4 linked regions of the Homo sapiens genome follow. The protein of the gene in region 4 purifies or fractionates together with the protein of the main gene of each other region. This does not show direct contact. Each region holds a gene or a part of one and is shown on either strand. Other genes may lie near its edges.

Evidence for each region. Proteins that work in one complex are often made in the same cells at the same time.
Region 1: the proteins of OSBPL11 (region 4) and NPC2 purify together in Homo sapiens (co-immunoprecipitation; one large-scale study listed by IntAct). This does not show direct contact.
Region 2: the proteins of OSBPL11 (region 4) and TRIO purify together in Homo sapiens (co-immunoprecipitation; one large-scale study listed by IntAct). This does not show direct contact.
Region 3: the proteins of OSBPL11 (region 4) and ALDH6A1 purify together in Homo sapiens (co-immunoprecipitation; one large-scale study listed by IntAct). This does not show direct contact.

Annotation. Positions count from the first base shown.
Region 1 is NC_000014.9:74,483,306-74,486,805, reverse strand, and holds part of NPC2 (NPC intracellular cholesterol transporter 2 isoform 2 precursor), read left to right. Parts: intron 1-369; coding exon 370-477; intron 478-2,218; coding exon 2,219-2,391; intron 2,392-3,500. UniProt on the Homo sapiens protein: Intracellular cholesterol transporter which acts in concert with NPC1 and plays an important role in the egress of cholesterol from the lysosomal compartment.
Region 2 is NC_000005.10:14,142,082-14,146,141, reverse strand, and holds the start of TRIO (triple functional domain protein), read right to left. Parts: upstream 2,801-4,060; 5' UTR 2,417-2,800; coding exon 2,260-2,416; exon of another isoform or gene 1,613-2,259; intron 1,337-1,612; exon of another isoform or gene 1,161-1,336; coding exon of another isoform or gene 1,121-1,160; intron 1-1,120. UniProt on the Homo sapiens protein: Guanine nucleotide exchange factor (GEF) for RHOA and RAC1 GTPases. Involved in coordinating actin remodeling, which is necessary for cell migration and growth. Plays a key role in the regulation of neurite outgrowth and lamellipodia formation.
Region 3 is NC_000014.9:74,074,454-74,077,953, reverse strand, and holds part of ALDH6A1 (methylmalonate-semialdehyde/malonate-semialdehyde dehydrogenase [acylating], mitochondrial isoform 1 precursor), read left to right. Parts: intron 1-2,936; coding exon 2,937-2,999; intron 3,000-3,500. UniProt on the Homo sapiens protein: Malonate and methylmalonate semialdehyde dehydrogenase involved in the catabolism of valine, thymine, and compounds catabolized by way of beta-alanine, including uracil and cytidine.
Region 4 is NC_000003.12:125,532,998-125,536,497, reverse strand, and holds part of OSBPL11 (oxysterol-binding protein-related protein 11), read left to right. Parts: intron 1-3,500. UniProt on the Homo sapiens protein: Plays a role in regulating ADIPOQ and FABP4 levels in differentiating adipocytes and is also involved in regulation of adipocyte triglyceride storage. Weakly binds 25-hydroxycholesterol. Interacts with OSBPL9 to function as lipid transfer proteins.

The sequences.
Region 1 (3,500 bases), on a different chromosome or scaffold from region 4:
AAGAATGCGAGATAAGACTCTAGGAATGTTTGGAATTTCTCTGATTGAAGTTTAATTCCTTTAATATGATCATTTATGGATATGGTCTTGATATTATTTAGTTTGACAAATATTAACTTTCTCTTGATCAAAAAACCAACTAGCTTCTTTATCATCTGAATTAAAGGCTATGATTTTAGCAGCAAGATGAATCAAGATTCTGACTTCTAATTGGGCATTATTCTTAAAGATTCCATCCTGGGAAACAGTCCGAGGAGAATGAGTTGACCCTAAATGGGAGAGCAGAGCACCTTCCCATTAGGTGGTGGGCAGCCTAGCTGGCTTATTTCTCCTCCTATTCTCCTATTCCAATTCATTTTTCTTTTGCAGGTTCTGTGGATGGAGTTATAAAGGAAGTGAATGTGAGCCCATGCCCCACCCAACCCTGCCAGCTGAGCAAAGGACAGTCTTACAGCGTCAATGTCACCTTCACCAGCAGTGCGTAAAAGTGGCTCTTAACTCAAATTCATGTTACAGCATAACCTAAATATCAAGTGTTGGAATAAGCATGGGAATGGAGGGGAGGGGAATTGGCAGTCATGAATTTTATGATTTCTTTTGCACCTCATGCAAAGCTAGGGTTCACTGTGCCCTTGGACACCCTTCTCATGCAGGGTCCATGGCTCCCAGACTCCCTTTAAGCAAACAGGGAGATGTCCATGTGTTCACAGGTTAGAGAAGACAGCTTGGCTTTTCTGTCTTGACCCATATTGCATAGTAGGCTATGATGGGAATGTCAGCTCTGTTTAGCTACAGACTGCAGAGTATTAGTATGGACCCCAATTCTTTAAGCTTTGGAACTCCTCCAAAATGTTGTTTTAAGCAGTAATGCCTTTCAGCTATTAAGTCTACATCCCACCTGAAAATAAAGGTGCAACTAATACTTAACAGCCTCCTTAAGATTTAGGGAACCCACTGGGGACCCAAGAAATAGCCAAGAAATCTGAGCTTTCTTCTCCAATATTCAAGAAATATCATTGGAACTTTTTGCTTTCTTGTACCACATCACTTTGAGATTTTTAAGAATCTAGACAAATGTAAAATCTTTTATTACTAAGCAGGGCATGTTCCTTGAATCTTTTCCTCATTTTCTGTCCTGTGAAACTAGACTAGACAGTCTAATAAGAAACCTCAAAGTTCCTGTCATCTTTTGTTCATAAGCCTAAAGACAGCTCTAAGTACTAGCTCCCTGTTTCCTCTCTGGACTATACCCTGGCCTCTCTATTGTTCCAAACCAAAAAAAAAAGCCTTCTGAACAAGTCATCCCCAACCCAGACAGAAGGAAAGAAACAGAACCAATTTTCTGGGTCTCCAAAATACCCTAATAACTCATAAGTCTGATTGCCCTCATTTTTTAATACCTTTATTCCTCCTGGCCATCTTGTGATGTGGAGGGTAAAGTTTATAAAGAATTGCATGTCTTTCTAATCTTACCCAATTTCTTTTTTTTTTTTTTTTTTTTTTTTTTTTTTGTGACAGAGTCTCGCTCTGTCACCCAGGCTGGAGTGCAGTGGCGCAATCTCAGCACACTGCAACCTCCGCCTCCTGGGCTCAAGCGATTCTCCCGCCTCAGCCTCTTGAGTAGCTGAGATGACAGGCATGCGCCACCACGCCCGGCTAATTTTTGTAGTTTTAGTAGAGACAGGGTTTTTCCATGTTGGCCAGGCTGGTCTCAAACTCCTGACCTCAGATGATCCACCCGCCTCAGCCTCCCAAAGTGCTGGGATTACAGGTGGGAGCTACTGTGATCCAGCCTAATCTTACCCTGCTAAAGGGTTACCTCTTTCACTGTTGTTACAGACCATGACATTTAAGACACACAATATACTTGGACAGAAGCTGATATAAATAGCAAACAGAAAGTTTACTGCCAAAAATCAGTTGCCTTGTTAGATAAGGTTGTTTATCCAGGTATCTCTGATTCTCCTAAGAAACTGTGAAGGGCCATGAAGAGCAAGGTTAAGAGCAAAGAAAACTTCTGCTGATTGTTTTTTTTTTTTTTTTTTTTTTTGCATAATTGTGTTTGGAGTGAATGCTTGCACTGTGCTAGTACCAAGCACCACTATCAAGAGAAATAGACCCTAGGAATGCTGTTGCTTGGGATTATTTCTGAATTTTTGATTTAGAGTTTGAAAATAGGTTATTTTCTTTGCCATCTGATTCTCTTTTTTTCTCTTAGATATTCAGTCTAAAAGCAGCAAGGCCGTGGTGCATGGCATCCTGATGGGCGTCCCAGTTCCCTTTCCCATTCCTGAGCCTGATGGTTGTAAGAGTGGAATTAACTGCCCTATCCAAAAAGACAAGACCTATAGCTACCTGAATAAACTACCAGTGAAAAGCGAATATCCCTCTGTAAGTGATACCATTATTGAGGACACGGGAGGCCTTGGGACTGGATTAGAGTTCTGAGGGCAGTGGGCAAGAAGCAGAGATGGGGGTAAAGGGCCCCTTATCTCTATGATGAAGAAGAAGCCCGAGGGAAAGGAGATAGGTGCGGTGTTAGGCATCAGGAGGTAGGGCAGGTCTTTTTCTCTGTGTCTCTTCATTCTTTCACTATGACCTGATGGTTAGCCTGGGCCTAATGATGCCATTTGTTTTTTAATATACTAAAATTTAATCATACATAAGAACTGTAATTTAATCTGACAGTAAAACACAAGAAGCAATATTAGAGTTGGTTTAGTATATTGTATATTTTAGCTTTGAAAGTCGTAGAAATCAGTTACCCCAGTTTTTTTCCTATAAAAGACCCATTTTTCCAAAGCATTATGCACAATTTCAATTAGAATATAATGACAGAGGATATTCCATAATTTTTAAAATATAAAATGAGGTAATTGATTCAAAAAAGTTATCTACTGCAATATCAATATCATTACAGATATAAAGTATGATGGTTCAACTTTTTAGTGCTTGATAGGGAGGAATCATGATAAAAAGGTCAATATGAAATCATTTGATTATAGTAGCAATATCTAACATTTGAAATGCATCCATGCTCTTTTGTATAATCATATTAGAGTCAAGTATATTTTCACATCTGTTATGTCTTATTTTCCAAGAGATATACACAGAGCAGTTTTTTTTCTCCAGGGAACTTATACAAACCAATATAAGATCTAAATTCTTCACATAATGTATAAAACAGGAGAAGCCTCTTCAAATTTATTTTTTGAAGTCTGGAATGCTGGCACTTTCCAATTAGGCAATAGTTCTTCATTCCTGTAACCTAGCTCAGAGCTGCTGCTGACTATGGGCCTAGAGCAGCAGACATGATTTCTTTTTAGGCTGTTTCTTTTCCACTGGTGTTTTTCTATTTATCTGTCTGACCAGGTCATAAAATATTTCATTAACATTGACCTTTGACTTTGCAGATTATTCTAAAATGGCACAGTTCCATCACTGTCATGCTAAATTCTGGCCCTGTTCTTTGCCAACTACTCACTCATCTTCCAGGTCAC
Region 2 (4,060 bases), on a different chromosome or scaffold from region 4:
CATCGTTGGCCTAGATGCTAGAGCCAAGATCTAGGTCAGGGACTCAGAGCTGCCCAAAGGAGATTTCACTTTTAAAAAGACGTTCCAGGCTATCGCTGGAATGGGATGCTGCATCTGATACCTACTTAAGTTCTGCCCTGGCTCCTGATTCTAAGTGAAACAACTAAAAAGTTAAGTTTGTCATTTTGGAGGGCAGAAGAAAGGAACAAGCCAGTGAGACATTACCTGGTTCTGACCCAAACGGAACATGAACAGGAGCCCTGGCGGCGGGGGCAGCACAGGCCTAAGCAAAGCCAAGAGCAGACGACAACTCCTGGAGAGAGCCACGCCAACAGGCAGCAAATCTTCGGTGTCTTTTAGGGAGGGCTCTTAGCAGCAGCAGAAGTGATTTTTGTACTATGCATAATAGAGATGTAAAAAAGCCTGGTCTCACAAACACCAAAAAATCCATCTCCAACGCAGAAGAGCCTTTCTAACAGAGAGGAGCTGAATTCTGCACAGAATCTATTATTCTGTGACAGGTAGGTAGAGAGAAAGCTAGACTTAGCTTCAGGGCATGAAGGGAATACGTCCCAGTTCTGCTATTAAGAGGTAAGACGGGGCTGCTCTATCTGGCCAGTCGCACCAAAAAAAAAAAGGTGGGGGGGGGTAGCTTTCTTTAGAAGGAGCTCATGTTTTCCTAAACCTTTGCTTTCTGCAGGCACTTCTCAAGGAGAGTGAGCACTGGGGAGTAGATTAACCCCAAGCTAACACTGGACAGTCGGCTGTGTCACTCCCAGCCACAACCAATCTGCTAAAATGAATCAAAAATAACCCCGCCTAGCAAAGATCAAGACAACCAAGAGAAGACAGTACTAAACCAGGTATCTACCAGCACTGCTAACTTCTGCCTCTCACCATCGCCCTCCCGCTGCAATTGCTCCTCGTGACCCGGATTGGGGAACTGATCTCACCGAATCTGGGGAGGTGATTTTCAAAGAGGCCACGGAAAAGCGTGAACCGCCGACCTCCCGCGCGTCCCCCAGCGCAGGGCCGCTCCCCCGGCCTGTCGGTGTCCCCAGCCCGGCCGTCCTCCCCGAGGCCGCCACCAGCACCCCCGCCCGCCTCTCCAGGCCCGGACCTGGCCCGCCCTCCTCCGCTCTCCAACCCGGAGTCTGCATCCTCCCTGCCCCGTGCCCGGCCCGCTAAGGACTGCGCTCTGGGTGCCGGCCCCGAGGCCGCCGCCGCCGCCGCCGCCTCCTCCTCCTCCTGCTGCTGCTCAGCCGACGCGCGAGCAGACCGGACTGGGCGCGGGGACGCGGGACGCGGGGACGCGGGCCCGGCTCGCGCGGGATCTGGGCCGGAGCGGGAGGAGGCGCCGCCGCTGGGGTACCGGGGACGCCCTGTCACGCCCCCTGCGCAGCAAACCCGGTGCCCCTCCCGCGGACCGGTCGCCACCCGCGCCTCTCCCGCGGCCACCCCCTCTGCGCCGGGGTGGACTCGGGGCCACCTGGCACCGCCTCCACCTCCACGCCACCCACACAGTGCCCCGCGAGCCCCAGCCCCGCGCCGCCCCCCCGGGGCCACGTTCCCAGCTGACCCTCCCGGGTCGTCCCCGGAGACAATGGCTCACCGCGCCTCCCGGTCCTCCGAGCTTCAGCTCGGCCACCGTCCCCACTCCCTGGGCAGTGAGTGCCGTGACTGCCCCGTTTCACAGAAGTGTAGACCAAGGCCGGGGAGATGACAGGCTAGAGGGCCAAGCAAAGAAACCCGGCTGCTAATGGGGTCGAGGAGGGTCCAGGTACAAATCAGCCAGAGACAGGCACAGATCAAAGACCAATTTCCCGTCCCGGACCGGCCCCGGCTCAGTCCGCTCGGCCTCCGGGGTAAGAGCCTCCGCCCACGCCATCTCCGCCGCCGCCTCCTCGGTCCTCCAGCGAAAGAGACAAAGAGCCGGCGCCCCAACCCGCGAAGCCGCGGCTGCCGGGAGCGGCAGACCGGGGGATTCTGCCCTAAAACGAGGGGCGGGCGCAGGGAGGGCGAGGTGGTGGCATTCGGGCCAAGCTGCCGCGCGCCCGGCTGCGCGGGCAGCGGGACACGCGGATGTGGGGCGGGCAGCCCCGGCGCATGGAAGCAGTGGTCCCAGGCGAGAGCCTGCGGGCCCCGACGGACGGACGGGCGGGCACCAGCGCGCGGTGGCCGGAGCTCGGCAGCTCCGCGGCGGGTCGGCCGAGCGCTTGGGGCAGCGCCGCTGGGCGGGCCGGCCGCAGTTGCACTCACCGGATCGGAAGAAGGCCGCGATGTCGGCCAGGTCCTTGGCCGCCTCCTCTGCCCCCTCGCCGGCACCGCCCCCGCAGCCCGAGCCAGCCGCGCTGGCCGCCGCGGCGGGGCCGGAGGACGCGGCGGGGGCGGCGGCTCCGCCGCTGCTGCCGCTCATGGCTGCGGCGGCGCCCGCGGCCGCGCCCGCCTCGGGCCCCGCGCCCCTAGCGCCGCGTGCCGCCCGCTCCGCGCCGGGCCTGGCGGCGCCGAGCACCCAGCTGCCCGCGCCCGGCGCGCGGACGCAGAGCCCCGGGGCGGCGGGGGGCGGCGGCGGCGGCTCGGCCCAAGGAGCGCGCCCACATAGACGAGGACTCCGCCCGGTAGCCGCGAGCTGGCCGAGGGGCGGAGGCGCGGAGCCACGGCCTCCCGGGCGCCGGCCGGAGCGCGGGCAGCAGCACGCGCCTCCCGGACGCGCAGTCGCGAGGGCGGGGGCCCGTGGCCGGCGAGACCTCCGGGATCACGGGCGCCGGCGGCTGCCGCGAGCCTCCATCTTGATTTCAATGGGGAAGGAAGGAGGGGGGAGGGGGAAATCACGGCCGAGGGAACCCGGGTGAAAGGAAAAGGGAGAACAGGGAACGGAGAGGAAGGAAAAAAAAGAGGGGCTTCGGTAATTTCCGGCGAACTTCGTCAAGGGCCGAGCCTGGGCTCGGCGGTGGGCGGAGCCTGGGGGAGGGGCGGGGCCGCGTTGGGCGGATGGGCTCCCGCAGGGCTGGCGGGGAGGCTGCAGGAACGTTCGGTTTGGTTCGGTCTGCTTCCCCGGGGCAGCTCCAAGCCTTGGAAGGCGCAGGAAAGCTCTGACCAGCCGGGGCGGACCTTCCCAGGCCCGGCATTGCGCCCCCAACCGGGGCGCTGGCTCCTGCACCGGTGCGCGGTCCCCTGAGCGCCGAGGCGTTTCGTCGTCTAGCCCGCAAGGCGGGGTGACGCGGGCCGGGGCGGGTGCCTCCCTAGTGGGCTCAGCGCTGGCCCTGGCTCGGGGAGGGGGCTTCTTAATAGTTGTTGAGTGAACATAGAGGGCCCGAAAACAGGTTATCTGCTCCAGTCCCGGAGGCCACGGTACTCCTAAGGGTACAAAGCTCTCCTGTAAAATGGGATTCCTCTCGGTGTATCCCCATCTCCCAGGGGACTTTCGGCTGCTGAACCTCGGGTTCACGGTTTCTCAGTCCTTACTCCGCCAGAATGAATGGGGAAGATGACGGGGTCTGGGGAGGCCAAAAGAAATGTTCCTTTGCGGAAGATCCGTGTCAAACCAGCGCTGGACGAATATTCTAGTTCAAAACGCCTATGCCCCGGCTACGAGGAGAGTGAAAGGATCCAGTGCCGGGGGAAACAGGCAGAAGCAAGAGAGATGAAAAACAACTGGGTGATGAAACCACCACACGAGTATACTGGAAATAGACAAATGTAAATGGTGGATGGTGGCCATCAAATCTTCACTGCTGGAGTGGAGGTTACAGCCAGGAAGAGGCTAGAGTGATCCTTGTGGTACAGGGTTAGAGTTGGAGACATCGTTATGGACTCATGTTTGGGGTCTACATCTATATTATATATTCATAATGTATATAATGGGTCTGTACAGAGATTTGTAGATAAAGGGTCGTACACATACTTGTATCTCTTTGCTTTGTCAGCTGAGTGGGCCTAGACACAACACTCTGTAGCAACGAATACACCTAGCGCTCTGATCTTGCTTCTAGTACCATTCTCCAATAAAAGGAGCCAGAGCTCCTTGAGGAAATGACTGATTCTAGGACTGGGACGGGAA
Region 3 (3,500 bases), on a different chromosome or scaffold from region 4:
ATGACATAACAATAAGATTTAATGAGTACCAGCTTTGTGCTAACTACTTTTCTATAACTGGACAGTCCTGATCAGGTTTAATCTTTAACTCTGAAGTAGGTGAACAAGACAGATGCAGTGTCAACCCTCCTGAAACTGACAGTCTTTATGGGTAACAGATAAGTACCCAGGTGCTGTGGCTTGGATATGGTTGGTTTGTCTCCACCAAAACTCATGTTGAAATTTAATCTCCAATGTGATAGTGTTGGGACCTAGTGGGAGGTGTTTGGGTCATGGGGGTGGATCCCTCATGAATGGCTTTGTGCTGTAGTGAGTGAATTCTTGCTCTTTTGAGACTGGATTAGTTCCCATGGGAATGGATTAGTTCCTGTGTGAGTGGGCTATAAAGCCAGGATACCCCCCCAGTTTTGCCTCTTCACACAGGTCTGCTTCCCCTTTGATCTTCTCTGTTATATTATGACACAGGACAGAAGCCCTCGCCAGAAGCTAGAGCCATTCCCTTGAACTTCCCAGCCTGCAGAATCATGAACTAAATAAACTACTTTTCCTTATAAATTGCCCAGTCTCAGGTATTTTGTTATAGCAACACAAAACGGAATAAGATACCAAACAATTACAACACAGAGAGATAAGCCTGAAACGGGAAGTATTGGCTGCTTTCAGAGGACAAAAAAGGGCCTCTTAACCTAGTTTGGGGTAGGAAGCAGACAGGAATGGGCTTCTATTTTATTCAGCAGATATTTACTGAACACCTACTACCTACCGAGTACTATATTGGTATTGGGAACATAGCTATAAATAAGACATGATGGGCTCCAGGAGAGTGTCAGTGGTTTGAAATGGCTTTGGTAGGGAATAGAAGAGCAAACAGATGAGGTATTTGGAAGGACTATCTGCTGGACCAAAGGACCACCACCTTTTCCTGGGCAGTGCTGCAGGCACCCTTCATGCAGCTCTATACTCTGGTTAACAGAGTCCCTTTTCAGGCAAGATAAAAGATTATTAGATTGCAGCTTTCCTTTATATCCCAGTCCTGAGTATTTTAGTTTGCTCATTTTGATTGGCTTAAGTATTTCTTAAATCAACTTTGATAACATATATATAGGCTGGGTGCAGTGGCTTACACCTGTAATCCCAGCACTCTGGGAGGCTGAGGCGGGTGGATCACCTGAGGTCAGGAGTTTGAGACCAGCCAGGCCAACATGGTGAAACCCCATCTCTACTAAAAATACAAAAAAAATAAAATAAAATTAGCCAGGCATGGTGGCGGGTGTCTGTAATCTCAGCTACTCAGGAGGCTGAGGCAGGAGAAAAGCTTGAACCCAGGAGGTGGAGGTTGCAGTGAGCCAAGGTCATGCCACTGTACTCCAGCCTGGTCAATGAGAGCAAAATTCTGTCTCAAAAAATAAATAAATAAAAAGAAAATTAGCTGGGCGTGGTGGCAGACACCTATAATCTGAGCTACTTGGCAGGCTGAGGCAGGAGAATCGCTTGAACACGGGAGGCAGAGGTTGCAGTGAGCCGAGATCATGCCACTGCACTCCAGCCTGGGCGACAGAGTGAGACTCCATCTCAAAAAATCAACTTTGATAACATATATACAGACTTTTTTAGTGAGTTACAATTTGAGAGTTATCTTGTTGAAACTGATCCTCCCCGTTTACTGATTTTACTCCATCAAATATTATCTATCCAACACATTTTTTCCTTTAATGTACCTATGGCATTTCAATATAGCTTTATTAAAATAAAATTGACACAAAACAATCTGTACATATTTAAAGTATGCAGTTTGATGAGTTTTAACATTTGTATACACCTGTGAAAATAGCATCACAATCAACATAATGAACATATGTCCATCACCCCAAAAAGTTTCCCTCGTCATCCCTAGGTAACCACTGTTCTGCTTTCTGATATTACAGATTTGTTTGCATTCTCTAGTGTTACATAAGTAGAATCATACAGTATGTACTTTTATTATCTAACTTCTGTCTCTTGCCATAATTATTATGACTATTTATATTGCATGTATCAGCAGGTCATTCCTTTTTTTGCTGAGTAGTATTCCAGTGTATGAATATACCACATTAGTTTCCTTATTCACCCATCCAATGGTAGACATTGGGTTGTTTCCAAGTTTTGGGCTACTACAAATAAAGTTCTTATGAACATTCATTTTTCAAATACCTATATGGACATAATTTTAATTGCATTTGGTAATAAATTTTGATTTATATTTACATTGATTATATACTCTATTACTTATATTTATATTTACATTGATTTTTTTTTTTGAGACAAGGTCTCCCTCTCTCTTCCTGGCTGGAGTGCAGTGGCATAATCACGGTTCACTGCAGCCTCACCCTCCCGGGCTGAAGCAATCCTCCCACCTTGGCCTCCCTAGTAGCTGGGACCACAGGCATGTGCCACCACTGCCTGGCTAATTTTTTAATTTTTTGTAGACAAGGTTTTGCCATGTTGCCCAGGGTGGTCTCAAAACTCCTAGACTCAAGTGATATACCCGTCTCAGCTTCCCAAAGTGCTGAGATTACAGGCGTGAGTCACCATGCCCAGCACATTGATTTTATATGATCTTAAATTCAGTACCTATTGTGTTAGATACCATGCTAAGTATTTTCATATTGTTAGATTTATGGTACATTTGCCAGGCCCAAATTAGGAAAATATAATGACAAAAAGATTTTTTTTAATCAGTACTATCCTGGAAATATAGGACATGATTATTATGGTTTATTGTTTGTTCATAGTTTGCTGTGTCATAGATTCATATCTTTTCTCTTTAATGACTGTATGGCCTTTGAGAGAAACATACCCCCTATATACTATAGCAAATAGCATATAGTAGCTATTTGCTAAATTTTAAATAACTTTCTGCTCTCATTTATCAAAATAATCGTTCTTTTGCCTCACAGGTTTCTTCCAAGGTGAAATCCAGTCCCACCTGGTATTCAGCATCTTCCTTCTCTTCTTCAGTGGTGAGTTTATTTGGCATAGAGGTTGACTTCTGAGAAGGAATTCAGTATAGTTTTGGGTATCTCTATCTTCTTTACATAATTGTCATCAGAGTGTATGTGAAACTTTCTAGTTTTTTCCTCCTTTTGGATTATTTCCCTCCTGAAATGGATTACCATGTCAAAAGATACAAACATTTTCATGGCTTCTAGAGGTTCTGCTGACCCTGCCAGATAGTTGTCTTCTTCTTAATGACCTTTAGAGTGGTTTTTACAGATCATCTGTCTGTCAACCACTTCCAGCATCTAAAATCTAATAAATAAGGACTATTGCTCAAATTCTTTCTACACAGAAGTATGCACACACTGTACCACAGTAGGTCACCATTTTTTGGTTCATAGACCGCTTTAAAAATTTAGTGTCCCAGCACTTTGGGAGGCTGAGGCAGGTGGATCACGAGGTCAAGAGATCGAGACCATCCTGGCCAACATGGGGAAACCACATCTCTACTAAAAATACAAAAC
Region 4 (3,500 bases):
GAACTTGGTGCTTATATTATTGAACGTGATTTTTTAAAATATTGTATAGTATGTCAACATCTGGAAGATCTGCATAACTCAATGAACCAGTATTTTTCAAATGACTAATGCATGATATTACAGAATCATGCATGGATAAATGATCCATTCAGGATGCACATTAGACCAGTGGATTTCCATATAAGTTATTTGAAAAAATATTGACATTCTTAAATTTTCCACATTGCAACTGGCCTTTTTAAAATTACCAGTTGTCGAGTTTTGAAACAGTATGAAAGAATTGAATTATTTGAAAAATCTGTAAAAATATTTCTTCTCTTTTTCAAACTGTATCTGTGTGAGGCCAGAATTTTTTTTTTTTTTTTGAGATGGACTCACTCTGTCACCTAAGTTGGAGTGCAGTGGCATGATCTCGGCTCACTGCAACCTCTGCCTCCTGGGCTCAAGCGATTCTCATGCCTCAGCCTCCCAAGTAGCTGGGATTACAGGTGCACACCACCACACCCAACTGATTTTTTTGTATTTTTAATAGAGATGGGGTTTCACCATGTTGGTCAGGCTGGTCTTGAACTCCTGATCTCAGGTGATCCGCCCACCTCGGCCTCCCAAAGTGCTGGAATTACAGGCTTGAGCCACCATGCCCGGCCCAGATTTTTCCTATATATACTTTAAATCAATATATCACCACAGATTGAATGTATGGGCAGATAAAGAGATGCTTCTGGGCCGGTGTGGTGGCTCACGCCTATAATCCCAGCATGTTGGAAGGCCAAGGCGGGTGTGTCACTTGAGGTCAGGAGTTCAAGACCAGCCTGGCCAACATGGTGAAACCCCATCTCTACTAAAAATACAAAAATCAGCCAGGCATCTCTACTAAAAATACAAAAATCACCTGGCGTGGTGGCGTGCACCTGTAGTCTCAGCTACTCGGGAGGCTGAGGCATGAGAATCACTTGAACCCAGGAGGTGGAGGTTGCAGTGAGCCGCCGTTGAACCACTGCACTCTAGCCTGGGTGACAGAGCCAGACTGTCTCAAAAAAAAAAAAAAAAAAAAAAAAGATGCTTCTGAATTTTATTTGCTAAAATTTTGTAATGAATTTTATAGTTTCTATATACATGAGGGATATTGCTCTGTTCTTTTCTTTAGGGGAAGGTTTTGAATTACAAATTACGTATGTTTAATATATAGGGCTGTTAAGGTTTTCTGTTTCTTCAGTGAGCTTTGGTAGTTTGTCTTTCAAGGAATTGGTTCATTTCAGCTAATGTGTCAAATTTATTGTCATATAGTTCCTAATATTACCTTATTTTTTTATCTGTGTAGGATCTATAGTGATATCCCCATACTTATTCCTTATATTTGTAATATCTTTTTTCTCATCAGTGTGACTAAAAGTTTATTAATTTTACACAAAAAACCAGATTTTGGCTTCACTGATTTAATCTATGTTTGTTTTCTTTCTCATTGAATTTTGCTCTTTTATAAAATCTCTTTTTTTCTCCTTACATTGTAAATAATTTGCTTTTTTTTTTTTTTTTTTTTTTTTTTCTAATTTCTTACAATGGAAGCTTAGGTTAGGGGTCAGCAAACTTTTTCTGTAAAAGGCCAATTAATATTTTAGCCTTAGTGGACCAAATAGCCTCTCCCACAGCTACTCAACTCTGCCCTTATAGCATGAAACATCCATAGACAATAAGTCAATGATGAGACATTGTTAAATTGCAATAAAAAATTATTTACAAAAATGGGCTGTGGGCCATAGTTTGATCCCTGGTTTAGCTCATCAATATTTTTTTCCTAAATGTTTAATGCTGTAAATTTTCCTCTGAGGACTGCTTTATTTCTATCTGATGACTTTTTATGTGTTTTCATTTCGAAATATTTTCTTATTTCCTTTGTGGGTTTTTTTTTTTTAACTCATGAACTTATTTACAAATGTGTTGATGATTTCTAAATGTTTAGAGATTTTCCAGCTAGCTTTCCATTATTTATTTCTAATTTAGTTTCATTTTGGTGAAAGAATATACTTTGTATGATTTTAATTCTTTATTTAGGTTTGTTTAATGATTCTGAATATGTTCTGTCTTGGTAAATGTTTCTTTTTTTTTTTTTAAGACAAAGTAGTGTCTTACTCTGTCGCCCAGGCTGGAGTGCAGTGATGCAGTCTCGGCTCACTGCAACCTCCACCTCCCTGGTTCAAGCGATTCTCATGCCTCAGCCTCCCGAGTAGCTGGGACTACAGGCGTGTGCCACCACACCCAGCTAATTTTTTTATATTTTTAGTAGAGATGGGGTTTCACCATGTTGGCCAGGCTGGTCTCAAACTCCTGACCTCAAGTGATCCACTCACGTCGGCCTCCCAAAGTGCTAGAATTATTCATGAGCCACCACACCTGGCCTTGGTAAATGTTTCATGTGCCCTTGACACGAATGTGTATTAAGCCCAAGAGTTTGAGACCAGCCTGGGTAACATGGCAAAACTCTGTCTCCACAAAAAATATAAAAATTAGTTGGATGTGATGGCATGTGCCTGTAATGCCAGCTACTCAGGAGGCTGAGGTGAGTGTGTTCTATAAACGTCAGGTCAAATGAGTTGACAGTATTTTTCTAGTCTTCTGTAGTCTTACAGATTTTCTGTGTATTTATTCTATCAGTTGAGTTTAGTTATTGAGATTGGTTATTAAAATTACCAATTACAATTGAATATTTCACTTTGTAGTTCTGCAAGTTGTTACTTCATTTTATTAGAAGTTCTGTTATTAGGGCAGGCATTTATATTTAGGATTGTTATGTCTTGATGTTTCTGTTTTTGTTTTAATGTCTTTGGTTATTTATGGAGAATTCCTTATAAATTCATTTTTATTTTTGAGCCATCTCATGTATCATATTTTTTTAAAAGGATATTTGATACTTGATTTTCAGAAATGTGTTAGGAAACCTTTTGGAGCCATTAAGATACATATGTAGCCTTAATTCTTTAAATTATAAGACCTTTGGCATACTATCCAGCACTTTGGGAGGCCGAGGTGGGCGGGTCATTTGAGGTCAGGAGTTCGAGACCAGCCTGGCCAACATGATGAAACCCTGTCTGTACTCAAAATACAAAAATTAGCCGGGCATGGTGGTGCACGCCTGTAGTCCCAGCTACTCAAGAAAGTGAGGCAGGAGAATTGCTTGAGTCCGGGAGGCAGAGGTTGCAGTGAGCTGAGATGGTGACAGTGAGACCCTGTCTCAAAAAAAGAAAAAAGAGAAGAGACGAGAACAGAAGAGAAAGAGGGAGGGAGGGAGAGAGAAGGGAGGGAGGGAAGGGGAGGAAGAGAAGGAAGGGGGGAGGAAAGAAAGGAAGAAAGAAAGAAAAAACAGATGTTTAGTAACTTTCTCGAGTAGTACAGTCATTACCATAAATAAGTTTTAGAATATTTTCATCCTACCGTAAGATCTCTCTTGTTCATTTACAGTTAATCCCCATTACCCCCAGCCCAGAGAACCACTAACTTTCTGT